Linked DNA regions of Homo sapiens: region 2 is linked to region 1. The links come from fine-mapping of genetic effects on gene expression. A gene starts in region 1. The other region holds a variant in brackets. All regions are shown on one strand. Distances are from middle to middle.

The links. PIP is the estimated chance that this variant, and not a neighbour inherited with it, causes the effect.
Region 2: its variant is the best candidate, but not a certain one, in a credible set for the expression of DIP2C in macrophages (Nedelec 2016, PIP 0.67).

Annotation. Positions count from the first base shown.
Region 1 is chr10:687,351-691,726 of GRCh38, reverse strand. DIP2C (disco interacting protein 2 homolog C) reads left to right here and starts at 2,059. Exons shown (of 37, transcript NM_014974.3): 1 at 2,059-2,233. The coding sequence starts at 2,149. RefSeq lists an enhancer at 749-1,684.
Region 2 is chr10:385,857-390,232 of GRCh38, reverse strand. It overlaps DIP2C (disco interacting protein 2 homolog C), which reads left to right. Exons shown (of 37, transcript NM_014974.3): 13 at 140-242; 14 at 2,424-2,488. Among named protein-coding and RNA genes, the nearest start is that of DIP2C-AS2, 240 kb to the left of the region's middle. The variant T/C (reference allele first, on the strand shown) is at 2,185.

The DNA of each region.
Region 1 (4,376 bases):
GCATCTTTGCTGTAATGAAATGAACTCAGGGCTTTGCTTTGGAGACTGGGGTTTGAATCCTGGTTCTGCTCCCCTTTCTGTCTCTAAGGACTTTTATCTGTGACGTGTAGGGGCTGTGTGGGATCTTCCCCACGGCCCCTGCATTGCTGGTCGGTCTCTTTATCATGCAAAGGGGAGAGATGATGGTGGGGCCACATGCTTGTGCCACCCGTATCTGTTGCATTGAACGCAGTCTGGAGCGAAGGACGAACCCACGGCGCACACCAGGCGGAGGCACACGGCTCGGCGCAGGAAGCACACGGGTTTGGGGTTCCTGTTTCCCAGCTCATCGTCGAATGTCATTCTCACAATTCCCCACTGAAAGGACCGATCCTTACAGGAAATGCACACACCTCTGGCGGTTGCCACCACTGCTAGATCCATGGGAAGGGCAAAGGTGGGTGAGGCATGGGCTCTGTCCTCCAGGCGCTTACACTCACAAAGAATACAGAGAAGATAAAAAAGGTCAAACGTGATGAGGGCGGGAAGTGGCCGGTGCAGGAAGAGAAAGGAGAGAGATTGTTCTGGACCTGGGGTCAGGGATGGCTGTGGGTGGCAGGGGCAGAGAAGGGGCAGGCTCTCCGGGGTGGAGGCCGGGAGCAGAGGTGCTGCGGGTCAGCCGCGTTGTTTGCAGGAGCCGGAGTGTGGAGGCCGCAAGGCTGCCGTGCAGGTGGGTCCCGGCTGGTGGGGGCTCCGGTCGAAGCGGGGTGGGGGGGTGGTGGGGGGTAGGGGTAGGGGGGTGAGGTGGGGGACCTGTGTTCCTGCGGCCCACTCTGAAAGGGGAGTGAGTGCAGCTGGGCCTCCGGGAGCCAGCGCTGGCCAATGTCCCGTGGAGGACGGGGAGGCGAGGAGGTCTTTAGGAAGCTCTGGGCCTAAGGGAGGGGCCGGGCTGGGAAGAGGGGGTACAAGGATGAAAAGGAGGCCAGGTCGTCGGGGCTTTGTGCAACAGACTGGGGAGGATGTGTGGAGACAGAGGAAGGTGATGATGAAGACAACGGGGGCGGTTCTGAGAAGCAGAACTTCCAGTGACTAAGAGTCACTGGAAGCAGCTGGCTTCATTTAGGGTTTGTGGCGTTTGGGGTGTCTAGGGGCTTCCAGGGAAGTTTGCTCAGTGGACGGTTGGAGATGCGAGGGCCTCCCCAGATGGTCAGGACTAGAGGCACAGACGGGGCTTCAGCCTCGCCGAGGTGGCACTGAGGCTGGGAGCTGATGGCCCCACAAGGAGAAGGACGGTGGGAACCCTGGGGCCTGCAGCCTGTTCCGGGAGGGCTGGAGCCAGGCTTTTCGGGCCCACCTGGCATTTGGAGATTAGGTGACCCAACCTTGTCTTCCCATCCCCTTTTCACAGATGGGGACACTGACCCTCCAGGCAAAGGCTCAGAGTCGCTCAAGGTCATCTGCTGGTCGTTGCATTCGAAACTTCCAGCCTAGCGCTCCGTCTCCGCCTCTTAAAATGTTCATTAACAAAAAACCAGCCCTCCAAGACCCGGGGCACTGCGAGTTTTCGCGCAGACGTCAAGCTGCGGCTCCAGGACGTGATTTTCGCAGGGAGCCGGGTGGACCAGGCTCTGGGGCCGGGCCCGCAGGCTCCGCTGGACGCGCAGAGCCCAGGACAGACAAGACCGCCCCGCCCCGCCCCGCCCCGCGGGCCCCGAGCCCCCAACCCGCCCCCGAGCGCGCCCCCGGGAGCGCGCGCTTCGCCGACGCGGCCGCGCGCCCCCCCGCGCGCTCCCGCTCCTGCGCGTCCTCGCGCCCCGCGCGCGCGCGCCCTGCCCCCGCGGCCCCGTGACGCGCGCGCGCAGAGACGCTCCCGCCGGGCCGGGGCCGAGAGCAGCAGGGCCGGGTCCGGGTCCGCAGCGCCTGCGGGGAGGGGCCGAGCGCGCGCGGGGCGGGCCGGGGACCGTGGGGCGCGGGGGCGCGCGAGGCGGCCGTGGCGGGGCCGCGCTGAGGAGGCGCCGAGGGGAGGGAGGTCCCTGCGCGCCCGCCGCCCGCCTCCCGCGCCCGCGCCGCCGCCTCCTCCTCGGTGCGGTTCCGCCGGGCGCGAGGAGCCGCCGAGACCTCCGCCTGCGAACAAAGAGGAGGCCGTGCGGGGCGCGGCGCCCGCGGAGCATGGCGGACCGCAGCCTGGAGGGCATGGCGCTGCCCCTGGAGGTGCGGGCGCGCCTGGCCGAGCTGGAGCTGGAGCTGTCGGAAGGTAACCGGGCCCCCGCCCCGGGCCGGGCCGCGCTGTCACCGGGGAGGGCCGCGCGCGGAGGGCTGGGGGCGCGGGGCCTGCGGCGGGGCGGGGGCCGGGCCCGGAGGGGGAGGTGCGACCCCAGCCCGGAGCGTGCGCGTCCCCCGGACCCCCAGACCCCGCGCCCTAGGGACGTTTGTGAGGCCGCGATCCCCCGCGCTCTGGGGACGTTTGTGGGGCCGCGATTCCCCGCGCCCTGGGGGTGTCTGTGGGGCCTGGGATCCCCTCGCGCTCTGGGGGTGTTTGTGGGGCCGCGATCCCCCGCGCCCTGGGATGTTTGTGGGGCCGCGATCCCCCCGCGCCCTGGGGGTGTCTGTGGGGCCTGGGCGCCGCGCGGGGACGCAGGATGCAGCGGGCCCGGCGGGATCGGCCTTCCCGTGCGCTCTGCGCTGGAGCCGCGGCGTCCTTGGTGCAGCAGCGCGGTGCGCGCCACCTCCTCGCTGGCGGGTTCGGCCTGGAACGCCCGGCCAGATTTCAATGCGAAACTTGTCGTTGGACCCCGGGTTCGATCTCTGGTGGCTCAGGCCGTGCAGCGGTCCTGGCGCGGCCCGGGGGATCCCACCCCCATTGTTCGCGGGCGCTGCGCGGGGAGGGCTGGGCGGAATCGTCAACCTCCCCCCGGGCCGGGCTCCGGCCTTGCCGTCCTGGTCCTCTCGTAGGAGGGTTTGTGGCAGATCAGCCACCGCGGTCTTATGGAGGGTTGTGTACGCCTCTTATTTGCTCTTCATGGCGGAGATCATGTGCTCAACTGTCATAAGTTTCAGATCGGGCTTTGCCAGGTCTTTTCCCCAAAACCACTGAAGTTCCCAAATCTGAAATGTTTGATGTGCATTTAGCCGTCTCTGGGCTCATCCTGGTCAGGCCATTCCTGTAACGTGGGGTGGGGTGGGGGTGGGCCGGCGCGTCTCACATTTATATTTGGAGCAGTTTAGCATGGTGAACTTTTTTTGGGTAACGGTTTTGTGAGGGCCGGCAGCCAGAAAGTAAACTCATTCGTGCCAATTTTCACCGGCAGGGAGGAGCTGGTGTTGACTTTATGTTTTCCTTTTTAACACTTTCAGGGCAAAGAAGGGAGTGAGCAGGGGCCATGGTGTGCAGCCAACTGCCTTTCCAGACTTCTGGGGACGGGAAATGGTACTGTTTTTCAGTTTCAGATGTGGGGTTCCGCGAGGTGTGTCAGTGTCCTGTAACGTGACACAGTTGGCGGGGGGCAGAGTCTTCCAGGCCTGTGGGCTTGGCTGCTGCCCTCCTGAGGAGCTGAGGATGAGGAGGGCATGGCTAGGAGGCGGGAGCTGCCGTGTGCAGGGTTCGGATGTAAACTGGTAAGTAGATTGTGCAGTGCAGACAGCTCGTTTGGTGGGTAAGGAGTGTATCATTTGCAAAAGGCCCACCCTGGTTATCTGATTGTGTCAGCCTTGGGTAGGTTTCCCGGCTTGCGTCTCGGCCCAGGTGCACCCCTGCCTGCAGCACCCTCCGTGTTCGCTGTCTCAGGACAGGGGCTTCTGTGCTGCCTGCATCACACTGATGTGAAGTGTCAGTGCCCCATCCAGGTCAGCAGAGCGTAGCGCCCCTGAGCTCAGCAGGGCGAGCCCCATCTGAGGGTTCCCCCACCCACTGCTAGCCCAGAAGTTGGACCCACATTTGTTCCCAGAGTCTGGGATGTCTATGGGAATGGGTGTCCTGTGTTGGGCATTGTGGCCTTTTGAGGTGACGACACTTGCCTGTCAGTTGCTCTTGGAGGGTGAGTGATACTGTCTTGCTGCCCAGATGATGGCAAAGCCACTTTCGACGAAGGTGTGCTCAGCCGAATTCCCTGTGAACACCTTGCGTCTGTACAGGTTTTTTAAAAAGGGCTTAATGAGTTAGTTTCTTATTGAGAGACCAGGCAGAGAAAGGGGTGTGTGTGTTTGCATGCAGGAAGCCTAATTATATTTTTCCTTCCACATGAATCTTGCTGAGATCTGAGCTACACATTTAAGAAGAAAGGGTGAGAGGGTTGCTCCGTGGCTCTATTCAGCCTCTCTGCACCCTCCGGCCTGTGCTGGCCCCACTGCCTCATCTGTTTGCTGGATGGTCTTTAACTTTGCTGTGAAGTGTGGGTTTG
Region 2 (4,376 bases), 300 kb after region 1:
TGAGTGTGGCCTTGGCACTAACGTGTGTTTCTGACGGTTACACGAGTGCCAAAATTCAGGGACTTGGAGAACCTCAAGTAACCAGAAAAACTGCCGTGACCTGTCAGCCCCACTTCCCTCACGCTTTGTCTCGTTTCAGTACAAGACGTGTAAGGATGGCAGTGTGCTGGGTGTGACGGTGACGAGGACTGCGCTGCTGACACACTGCCAGGCCCTGACGCAGGCGTGTGGCTACACGGAAGGTGGGGTGCCAGACCCTGACTCCTTGGGACCCTGGTTCTAACCGGGACACCTGACACGAAGGCCACATCACTCCCACGAGGAGCCATAGAAATAGCGTGAAGTTTGTGCCCAGCTCCGCTGACATGAACTTATTGTTGAGTTAGGATATCAGCTCAGCCTACCATAGCAAATACTACAGACTGGGCGGCTTCAACAGCAGACATTTATGTCCGCACAGCGCGGAGGTCTGAGGTCAGCGTGTCCTTGGGCAGTTCCCAGTGGGGGTCTCTTCCAGGTTTCTCGTAGGAGGTGTGAGAAGATGTGCAGTTAGGAACCCATCCCTACCACCCCACTGAATGCAAAGGACCTCCTGAAAGGTGCGCTCTCCACACAGCCACGCCGGGGCCTGGGCTTCAGCATGTGGATCTGGGGAGACGCTGTTAACGCCGTGGAGCTTCATCCCTGGGTGCACATGAGCATATCTTTAGTTGTAAAGAAAACGCCTGTGTGTCCACCCACCCTCCCAATTGAGTCAGAGTCTCTGCATTGGTGCTCGTGATGTGTTTTCCTTCCCCCGGGTGGGCTGGTATGGGAGGCAAAGAGGGGAAGTGAGTGGAGGGAACTTGAGTGGAGGGAACTGTGGCAACCACACTGAAATGGCACAGAGAGGGGAGGGTGCGACCCCGGGGACCCCAGAGACTCCCCCCATTGGTGGCCTGAGTCCTGCTGATATCCCCTGAAACCTCCTGAGATGTTCTGAGACGTTGTGATGTACCCTGAGGCCCTTTGAGACCCCTTGAGAACCCCCATGCCCCTGAGATCCCTTGGGATGCCCTGAGGCCCTTTGAGACCCCAGAGAACCCCCATGCCCCTGAGATCCCTTGGGATGCCCCAAGGCCCCTTGAGACCTCAGAGAACCCCCAGAGAACCCCCATGCCCCTGAGATCCCTTGGGATGGCCCGAGGCCCCTTGAGACCCCAGAGAACCCCCAGAGAATCCCCGTGGCCCTGAGATCCCTTGGGATGCCCCGAGGCCCCTTGAGACTCCAGAGAACCCCCCCATGTCCCTGAGATCCCTTAGGATGCCCCAAGGCCCCTTGAGACCCCCTCCGGAGACCCCCTGAGGCTCCCTGACATCCCCTTGACCAGGCTCCTGACAGGGCACCGCTGCGGCGTGCACCCCTGCCTGGCGTCTCTTTCTGGAACTTCACGAAGCCGTGGTGGCATCTGCCGCTCCGCTGTGGAATGAAACACTTTTCTTTTTCTACTATTTTTATTATCTGCCCATCCTCATAATCTCCCTTTTAAAAACAGCGTGTGTGTCTCGTGGGTATTCTGATGTTTGGCCATGGAGTTTTCACACCTGGGGACGCACTGCCCCCTGCGCCTCCAAGGTCCAGGGTGGTCACGCTTGTGGAGGTTGGGGAGGGAATGATACGTTCGCTCTTTACTTCACTACTTTCAAAAGGAACTTAGGTTGTTTACTTTTGGCCATTTATTGTGAAAGCCTCCTGTCTATTATCCTCCACACTTTAGCCTTTGGAAGGGGAGGTGAGACTGAGTCACCTGCAGGCAGCTGCTGACCTTGGCTGGCCAGGTGACTTCGGGAGAAAGCTAGGTCTGTTCAGGGCCAGCATGCTCTGTGATGGTAAACCTCATCAAGCACGAGCTTTTAGCACCTTTTTAGAGCCCTCCCCCATAGTCATTGAATAGATTGTCCTCCCCGTCTTCCAAATTGCAGTGCCTCCTTTTTTTATTGCAGCTCCAACCTTGGAGACTTGCAGTAGAGCTGTGTAGGCCCCTGTGTTGCCAAAAATCCACTTCCTCCTCTGTGCGCAGAGGGCATGCCAGCTGCAAAGCTTCCTTTCCTGGGAGACTCATGAGGAAGTGAAAAGAAATCTTTTAAAGAAAAAGGCAGAGAGGGGGAAATATATAAAAGGAGAAGGAACGCTGCGTTTTAAGG[T/C]GCAGTGTGGAGAGCTAACGCTGCTCACTCATGTGTCAGGATATCTGTCGAGAAACTCCAGGGTGGCCGGCACTCAAACCGGCCTACTTGGAGTCTACAGAATTTCCACCAAGATACGGCAAAATGATATTTTCCCAAGATCTGTTATTTCCCCTGATGCAATATTGGATTTTGTTTGCATTTTGATCTGTTGCCGCCCTGTCCTAAGTAAAAATCTCCTGACTCCCTCTGTTGTGCAGCTGAAACCATTGTGAATGTGCTGGATTTCAAGAAGGACGTCGGGCTCTGGCATGGCATCCTGACAGTAAGTGAGGTCCCCCCGGCCGTGTCTGTCCACAAAGGAGTCCCCCACCCTGCCCTGCCTGTCCACACAGGAGTCCCCCTCCCCATACTGTCTGTCCACACAGGAGTCCCCTCCCCACACTGTCTGTCCACACAGGAGTCTCCCTCCCACCCTGCCTGTCCACACAGGAGTCGCCCCCCACCCCGCCCTGCCTGTCCACACAGGAGTCCCCTCCCCTCACTGTCTGTCCACACAGGAGTCGCCCCCCCGCCGCCCGCACTGCCTGTCCACACAGGAGTCCCCTCCCCTCACTGTCTGTCCACACAGGAGTGTGCTGGGTGTAGGAATACAAATGCCTAGATTTGCCTACGTTTCACTTGTGCAAGCTGCTTCCTGCCACACTGTGAAGCAGAAAATCGTCACTGTTAGAAGACCGAGGTTGTCCACTAACGTGGTTCACAACTGCACCACAAAGCCAGTTGTGTCAGCAGCCACTGGTGTGAGGGTCTTGGACACGTGGATTGAGGTTACAGCTGCCGAAAACAGCCTTCCAGGGCTCACGTGGAGATCATTATCTTTCTTCCCGCACTTTTGGCATTCAGTATCTTAGAATAACGTCAAAGGTTGGTTCGTGTGTGGGCTACTGTCCCGTACATCTGGTTAGCTGGATGTTTCTGTTTGTTGAGTCGGTGGGGCCTGCTATTGTGTTACTCTGCGGGGGAAAGTAGTTTCCAGATTTGCCCTTGAGGATGGCAGTCTGTGTGTGTTGTAGGGAAACGACTGTCTCACAGTCACGAGTGCCCTGGATGACGTGCCGGGCTTGGGCACTTTTCGTGGGGAAGTAGCCTTGTTATTTGTTTAAGGTGGGCCTGGCCCTTAAAAGCTACGTGGAGCATGACTGCTTAGACGCTCCCCCCATCTGTTTCATATGTGGTAATTTTCACTCATTTTTCTTTTGAATAATTTCTTACGCTGAAGCTTCTTACCTTTTGGAGGTAGAAAATTCTAGGAGTTGTCACATGAGTGATGGGCATATGAATACAGGAATTCCTGTATTCGCCGTTTCTTGGCGAACCAGAATTCATGTGAAGAGGAGCCGGCAAGCATTTCCTAGACCAAATATCTGTGGCTGCAGAGCAGCCCGGCTGGCTTCTTTCCGTGTTACACACAGGTCGTCTCTCAAGTCTGGATGCTGTTGGGGGATAAGATGGAGCAGCGTGTTCCCAGCACCACTGTGTGCTGGTGCAGTGGGGAGCCCCTGCTTTGGGATTGAAGGACCTGGGATAAGATGGAGCAGCTTGTTCCCAGCACCGTTATGTGCTGGTGCAGTGGGAGCCCCTGCTTTGGGATTGGAGGACCTGGGCTTGTGTCTCAGCCTTTCCTTTCTTAGCTTTGTGACTCAGGCATGTCAGACGTGCGTCCAAGTCCCTTCTCAAATCCAAACCTCAGTTTTTCTGTCTGTGAATGGAACGACGATCCTATTTGACGTGGCCGGTGTGAGAATTCTGTGGCCTAAAGTTGAAGCACTCACTCCACCTACACGTTTGACGCATGTGATTCAATGATCAGGTCCCAAAGAACAGACAGCTACATCACTGGTGCCGTTAGTCACTCTCGTCATTAGAACACCCAACTTTCCGGCTGTGACGTTGTCCACACAGCCCTGCTTTCGAGGCCTCGTCGCGGGGCCGCCTCTCTGAGGAGCTCCCGCTGGTGGTGCCAGCCTGCCTGCTCCGTGCTCCGGGGTACAGCTGGCAGCCCTGGCAGGTGCGAGTCTCTCCACTGTCACATCTAAAGCGAGGTCTCTGAGCAGGCAGCAGCATCTTTTGAGACACCCTTACCTCCCCCAGCAGAGTGGCGGGGAGTCGGCAGAGCTCTGGGGAGTGAAGGCACATGCTTTTTTGCTTTC